Linked DNA regions of Homo sapiens. The protein of the gene in region 1 purifies or fractionates together with the protein of each later gene. This does not show direct contact. Each region holds a gene or a part of one and is shown on either strand. Other genes may lie near its edges.

What was found.
Region 2: the proteins of STARD8 (region 1) and JPH1 purify together in Homo sapiens (affinity purification with mass spectrometry; 2 studies listed by BioGRID and IntAct, with this or other methods). This does not show direct contact.

Annotation. Positions count from the first base shown.
Region 1 is NC_000023.11:68,650,535-68,654,267, reverse strand, and holds part of STARD8 (stAR-related lipid transfer protein 8), read right to left. Parts: intron 1-3,733. UniProt on the Homo sapiens protein: Accelerates GTPase activity of RHOA and CDC42, but not RAC1. Stimulates the hydrolysis of phosphatidylinositol 4,5-bisphosphate by PLCD1.
Region 2 is NC_000008.11:74,258,831-74,262,563, forward strand, and holds part of JPH1 (junctophilin-1), read right to left. Parts: intron 674-3,733; coding exon 555-673; intron 1-554. UniProt on the Homo sapiens protein: Junctophilins contribute to the formation of junctional membrane complexes (JMCs) which link the plasma membrane with the endoplasmic or sarcoplasmic reticulum in excitable cells.

The DNA.
Region 1 (3,733 bases):
AGAACGAGTAGGGAGATTATGGTGTATTACACAGACCACATTGGAATCCGCTGTGTCCTGATGCCCTCTGAGACCTTGGCCACATCTCTCCCCTCTCTGGGCCTCAGTTTCCTCACTGGTAGTTTGGAGAGAGGAACAGAGAAAGAGGAATAGATGACCTCCAAGGGCCTTTTCATCTCTGATATTGCATGATTATCTACCTATAAGAGGAGGGAACTGAGGGACAGGAGAGAGAATTGACCCTCTCAAGGTCATCCAGAGGTCATGGTTGAGATGGCGCTCCAGGCAGATTTCCCACCTCCCAAGCCAGTGCCCTCTAGGACCTGATATGCCCACCTGAAGCGGAGTAACATGAGGGAGGATTTGTGTTCCGGGCACCCCTTATGTGCATAACACCATGCTAAGTGCTGGAAGGGGGCAAAAGAATACATCAAAGAAATGGTTCTGTATGTATGTGGTGTGTGTGTGTGTATGTGGTGTGTGTGTTTGTGGTATGTGTGATGTGTGGGGTGTGTGTGTGTGTGGCGTGTGGTGTGTGTGTGTGGTGTGGTGTGTGTGGTGTATGTGTGGTGTGGTGTGTGTGTGGTGTGGTGTGTTGGGGGGTGTATGTGGCGTGTATGGTGTGTGTGTGGTGTGTGGGGTGTGTGTGTGTGTGGTGGGGTGTGTGTGCTTGTGTGGTGTGGTGTGTGTGTGGTGTGTGTGTGGTGTATGTGTGCTGTGGTGTGTGTGTGCTGTGGTGTGTGTGGTGTGTGTGGTGTGTATGGTGTGTGTGAGGGGTGTGGGGTGTGTGTGTGGGGTGTGGGGTGTGTGTGTGTGGTGTGAGGTGTATGTGTGGTGTGTGGTGTGTGTGGTGTGGTGTGTGTGGTGTGTGTGGGGTGTGTGTGTGTGGTGTGGTGTGCGTTTGGGGGTGTGTGTGGGGTGTGTGTGGTGTGTGGGGTGTGTGTGTGTGGTGTGTGGTGTGGTGTGTGTGTGGTGTGTGGTGTGTGTGTGGTGTGGTGTGTGGTGTGTGTGGTGTATGTGTGGTGTGTGTGTGTGGTGTGGTGTGTATGTTGTGTGGTGTGGTGTGTGTGTGATGTGTGTGTGCTGTGTTGTGTGTGTGTGGTGTGTGTGTTTGGTGTGGTGTGTGTGGTGTGTGGTGTGTGTGTGGTGTGTGGTGTGTGTGTGTGGTGTGTGTGGTGTGTGGTGTGGTGTGTGTGTGGTGTGTGGTGTGTGTGGTGTGTGATGTGTGTGTGTGGTGTGTGGGGTGTGTGTGTGTGGTGGTGTGTGTGTGGTGTGTGGTGTGTGTGTGGTGTGTGGTGTGTGGTGTGTGTGTGTGGTGTGGTGTGTGTGTGTGGTGTGTGTGATGTGTGTGTGTGGTGTGGTGTGTGTGGTGTGGTGTGTGTGTGTGGGGTGTGGGTGTGTGTGTGTGTGGTGTGGTGTGTGGGGGTGTGTGTGGGGTGTGGGGTGTGTGGGGTGTGTGTGTGGTGTGTGGTGTGTGTGTGTGTGGTGTGTGGGGTGTGTGTGTGGGGGAGTGTGGTGTATGTGTGTGGTGTGTGGTGTGTGTATGGTGTGATGTGTTTGTGGTGTGTGTGTGGTGTGTGTTTCATGTGTGTGGAGTGTGGGGTGTGTGGCTGTGTGTTGCGGGGGAGCGGGTGAGAAACTGACTCATGCATGCTTCGTTGTACCAAGGGGCCATGGATGCCTTCCGGGCCCTGACTGGCCTCCAGGGGAAGACACAGCAAACACGTATTGGACTATTTATACTGGGTTCATCTCACACTTAAACGTCTTGTCCCTTGGCTGCCCCTAACACAAGAGCAGCTCAAAGCAATCCTGAGCCCTGGCCTGGCCTTTTGCCACCTTCCCACCATCCCTGGCTTCTGGGGTGTCAGCCTTCATCTCCCAAATGGATCACTTCTATTCCTAGACCCAGGCATAGTCAAAGTAGAGGGCTGAGGAGTTGTGGCAAAGGAGCAGACTGGACCTGAGACCCTAACCCTGGAATTTTCAAATATAGAATAACCCTCATTCTTTGCTGTGGTGCCTCTAGTACACAGTTTCGGAAGCTGCTTCCAACAAATCATGTGTATTGACCACCTACTCCATGTCAGGCACTTTAAAGACACAGCCTTGCCGAGCGTGGTGACTTACGCCTGTAATTCCCGCACTTTGGGAAGCCAAGGCGGGCTGATCACTTAGGGTTAGGAGCTCGAGACCAGCCTGGCCAACACGGTGAAACCCTGTCTCTACTAAAAATACAAAAAAAAAAAAAAATTAGCTGGGCGTGGTGGCGGGCGCCTGTAATTCCAGCTACTCGGGAGGCTGAGGCAGGAGAATCGCTTGAACCCGGGAGGTGGAGGTTGCAATGAGCAGACACTGCACTCCAGCCTGGGCAACAGAGCGAGACTCGGTCAAAAAAAAAAAAAAAAGACTTAACCCACCCACCAAATGTTCGTGGCATTTCTGTGAGGCGGGCACTGATTAGTGTCATTCTGCAAACAAGGAAATTGAGGCTCGGAGAAGACTTGCTCGAAGGCACACAGCTAGTATGTGTGCCTGTGGGTGTGGGGTGGAATTGAAACCCAAGTTTGTGTGCTTCACCCCTCCTCATACCTCTTCAGCTGATGAAGGGCTCCATATGGTGGGGGAGGGAAGGGGCTCGGTTTCCCTATCAGGACCATGAGAAGTTTGAATAAGATGATCTGAGAGGGCCCTTTCAGCTCTGACAGGATCTGTCCCGGCCATTCCCCACCCCTCAAACCCCTCAGTCTCCCGCACTCAGGGGGCCTGGCTCAGAGAGGGAGGGTGGCTCACAGCAGCCCGTGCCCTTGACTGAGCTCCCGAGCCCAGAGAGCCTGCCTTTCTGACTGGGGCCTCAAAGCAGCAGCATTGGAAAAGGGAGCACGCAGTCCAAGTGTGTGGATCCGGCAGGCTGCCTCTTAGCCCTGAGATCCAGCCATGTGTTGATTCACATCTGCCAAGGACATGAGCAACCACAGACCTGTGCATATGCATGTGCATGCACGTGGACCTTCACGCCGTGTGCATGCTTTTGTATGTCTACAGGCTTTTTGGAGATGTGCCTGGCTGTGTCTCTGTGTGTCCCTCATGCTTGTGCATAGGAGGGTATGTATCTGATGTGCCTGTGTGCTTACCTCTGTATATGCATGCATGCATATGTGTGTGAGTCTACATCATGCTAGGAATGTGCACTGTCTGTGTGTACATGTGCATTTGCCTGTTTGTGCCAGGGTATATGTGTGTTCGTCTCTATGTATGTGTGTATGCACACTTGAATGGTGTGCCTGTGCATATGTGTGTGGGGTTGAATATGCACAAATGCACGTGTATGTCCTCTGTGGACACACTCATAAGTGAATGCGTGCAAACGTCTGGGACCCATGATAGAGATCCTCAACCTTCTCTTGGGGCTGTCCTAGCCCACCAGTTTTGTTTTGTTTTGTTTTGTTTTGTTTTGTTTTGTTTTGTTTTGTTTTGTTTTGTTTGAGACATAGCCTTAGTCTGATGGCCAGGTTGGAGTGCAGTGGTGCGATCATGACTCACTGCAGCCATCCTCCTGCCTCAGCCCCACAAGTAGCTGAGAAAACAGGCATGCATCACCATGCCTGACTAATTTTAAATTTTTTTTTCTAGAGACACAGTCTTACTATGCTGCCCAGGCTGGTCTTGATTTCCTGGACTCAAGTGATCCACCTGCCTCGGCATCCCAAAGTGCTGGGATTACAGGCGTGAC
Region 2 (3,733 bases), on another chromosome or scaffold:
AGGAAGGGTGAGACTCTGGGGAATAACCCATCTCCAGGGCTAACACTCAGACCTCGGGTGATATTTGTTACTACAAGTTGAACATTCCTAATCCAAAAATCTGAAATGCTCCAGAATCCAAAACATTGTGGGCACCGACACGATGCTACAAGTGGAAAATTCCACATGACCGATGGTCACAGTCAAAATGCAGTCAAAACTTTGTTCCATGTGCAAAATTATTAAAAATATACTATAAAATTACCTCCAGGCTATGTGTATAAGGTATCTATGAAACATAAATGAATTTCGTGTTTCAACTTGGGTTCCCAGCTCAAGAGATCTCACTGTGTACATGCAAATACAGAAAAATATCAACAAATCTGAAATCTGAAACACTTCTGGTCCCAAGCACTTCAGATGAAGGATCCTCAACCGCAGGCGCCCTTGCTTGTTTTGTATAATAGTACTGCTGGGATTCAGGAAGCACACATCTTTATGTTGAAAGGAAAAGGAAATAAAAGCAAGCCAAAGCCAGTGCTCCTGCCTCACCCATCAAAGGAGCACTGTTTTACCTGGTTGGTAGAAATCAGGTGACAGCTCCCTGGCCACAGCTCTCGCGATGTCGCACTCCTGGCGAGCGGCCAGCGCGGCCTGGTCGGCGGCATCGGCCTTCGCTCTGGCATGTGCAGTCCTACACGGGGCACAAAAGGACGAGTCAGCATAGGTGACCCCTTGTTACTTACACAGGGACAAGCAAATTGTAATCTGGGAAAAGAAATGTTAATTATGATTATGGCCCGACACCCACAAGAGCAAAAATTTTAGAGTCCTATTGCCGTGAAATTTCAATGAAGATGACATAGATGAAACTAAACTACCCATGAATTGCCTTAGCCCTTCTCTCAAGGGAAATGAAAAGTAAGAGCAAGGTCTGTGTAGCTTGATGCTAAGTGTGGTTTTCAAAACTTACTGGATCAAATCTCCTGTTGACTTTGGTTGGCATTCCTCCCCCCCACCTAAAATTATGGAAAGTAGAATTAGAACATATAAATTAATAGTGTTTATCAAATTCATTTCTACGGTACAATCAATGTAAGAATTTGACTAAGAAAGATCTGCCCACTGGCATGCTGGTGAAGTAGCTCTTTGAAGAAAAAAATTAGTGAAATGGGGATTGGTAGTGTTTATTCATATCCATGTGTAAATGTTCTCACCGTGGCCAATTTCAGGCTACCAGCATAATGCCGTTGGATGTGCAGTGGGGAGATGTGCACTATTGGTGCTCACCAGCAGGAGCAAACCACAAGGCCCGCTCTAAGAACATGCTCAGAAGGGTTCCTGAGGAGCCCATTTAGCTGACTTTTAGGCATGTTTCTTGTATGAACCAAAAAGGAGACAGCGAGGCAGAACTGGCAAGGATGAAATGGATCTTTCAGTCTTCCATCGCCTCCCTGGCCTGTCCTCACTCATGGAAACCTCTCATCTTTCTGGAGGACTAGGGTTATGCGGAAAGTGGCAGGAAAAAGAATAGGGCTTCTTATGGCTGCACCAGGGAATGATGTCTACTGGCCCCAGAGAGGGTTGGAGGGAAGAAAAAAACTCTGGTTTATCTGCTCTGCAAAGGGAAAGGCCTTGTCCCGTTAGTCTTTAGATGTTTATGGGTACCTATTTCTTATGACTTTGTAAATTTTCTATTATATTTTATTAGCACTAGGCAGGGCTATAAATAACTAGCAGTGAAAACTTAATGGAAGTCTGAAAAAGGTGCTTACACTTATGTTGGAGACAGCAGGAGAGAGGAGGAGTTGGGAAAAGGCATGGGCTTTGGATGCTCTTCAGGGAGAACACACGGGCAGCAGCTGGAGGAGGCTGGCAGGCGGAGCTCCTGGGACCAAAACACGGAGGCACCGGGCCTGGCCTGAGACAAGGGGGTCTACTGGTAGGAGGCCCCCTTTTCACATTACTCTCTTCAATAACCTCCTCTTGTCCTGTGCTCTCACGGGACTCCTTTCACTTCTATTTAGGATCTAAGCAAGCCTGAAGGCTTGATGTATTAGAATGTAAGCTTTGTGAAGATTGGAATTTTTAATTTTTGGTCCTCTGTCATAATCCCAAAGTGCAGAACGCTACATTGGCACATACTATTTATTGAGGGACCACTTTATGAATAAAGGAATGAATGATGCTTCCTTAGGAAAAGCTGGGTAGTTCTTAAAACTGAATGGAATGACAAAACCATAGAGACAGTAAAAAGATTCAGAGTTGCTAAGAGTTCGGGGTGTAGTAGGGAAGAATGAATTGGTGGAAAGGAGGGCATATCTGGGGGAGTTTAATTATTCTGCATGATACTGTAGTGGGGGACATTACATATTTGTCAAAATCTATAGACTGTACAACACAAACAGTGAATGAAGCCTGATGTAAACTATGGACTTTAATACTAATATATTAATACCGGTTCATCAATTACACCAAACGCACCTCAAAATGCAAGATGTTAATAATAGGGGATATTGTGTGTGTGCATGAGGAGAGGAGGTGTATGGGAACTTTGCAGTTCCTGTTCAATTTTTCTGATAACTTAAAACTGCTCTAAAAAATAAAGTCATTAAAAATGAGTGGATCAACTTCGAATCATCAAAACTGCTATTTCTAAACCATGGAGGATGCTTTAGATTATTTGTGTATGGGGTATCAAGAAATATGAAATGGAAATAACATCAAGAGGGGAGGGACATATTCTTAAACAACTGGCTGTTGGAATAACCCCTCATGGGTGCCATTGCTGAGGTACGATGGGTAATGCCTTAGTCCTGTGTGTTGTGCCTGATAATCAACAGATGCCCTCCGCTAATGTTCTTTCAGTTTCTCAGAATCTAAACTTTTTTCCCCCAAATGATTTTCCATTTTGTCCGCTATTCTTAGCCAGAGCCTAATTATGTCTAGGTGTCATAATTAATGAAGCCATAAGAGTATAGCTATGCTGCTTTATAATACTATCTATTAGCCCTTTAATGATAAATTTACAAAACTCAAGTACAAGTAACTTATTCGGATTCAATCACGACACACCACCATACAGTCAAATAAAACAGCAGTAGTATATCTACCACTTTTTATAATATGCTAAACTAGAGAATAGACAAATACAGCTTAACCTTTCTGCAAATATATTTTGGAAGCACAGCATCAGTGAAGCCTGCTAGTACTTAACCCTTTACTTTTTTACTTGCTGTTTCCTATAAGACCACACAGCAAAGGAGGACCTTTCTATCCAGCCCAGCTCTGTGGCTCAGTGCTACTGTATAGCTGGCCAGATGAGTCAAGACCACATTCAAACCTGAATCCTGAAGTCTGCTCAAGAGCTTTTGGAACCGATGACAAGAAGGAAGAACAGAAACCCACTCTGAGTTTGCTGTTAACACCAGCCTGTACAGCTAAGGCCACTGGCATGTCTAGATTTTGCCCAGGAATAATCTGGACTTGTCTCTGGCTCATGTTAGTGAATTCATGTGATCACATCCCAGGCTCAGTTCCAGAGTGACACACGACCCCTGTAATCAGTCAATTGCGATTGTTCTTGCGTTGGGGGGTGGGATTCAGGTTAGGCAGTCTGGAGAGATAAGCTGAAACCACTCAAACTGGATGCCCTGATGCTATTGCTGGTCACAGGCAAAAAATGCATACACCAAAGGGGAATACGTGCCCCAAAAGCATTTCATTTATCAAAAGACTGTGACATTTTACAAAT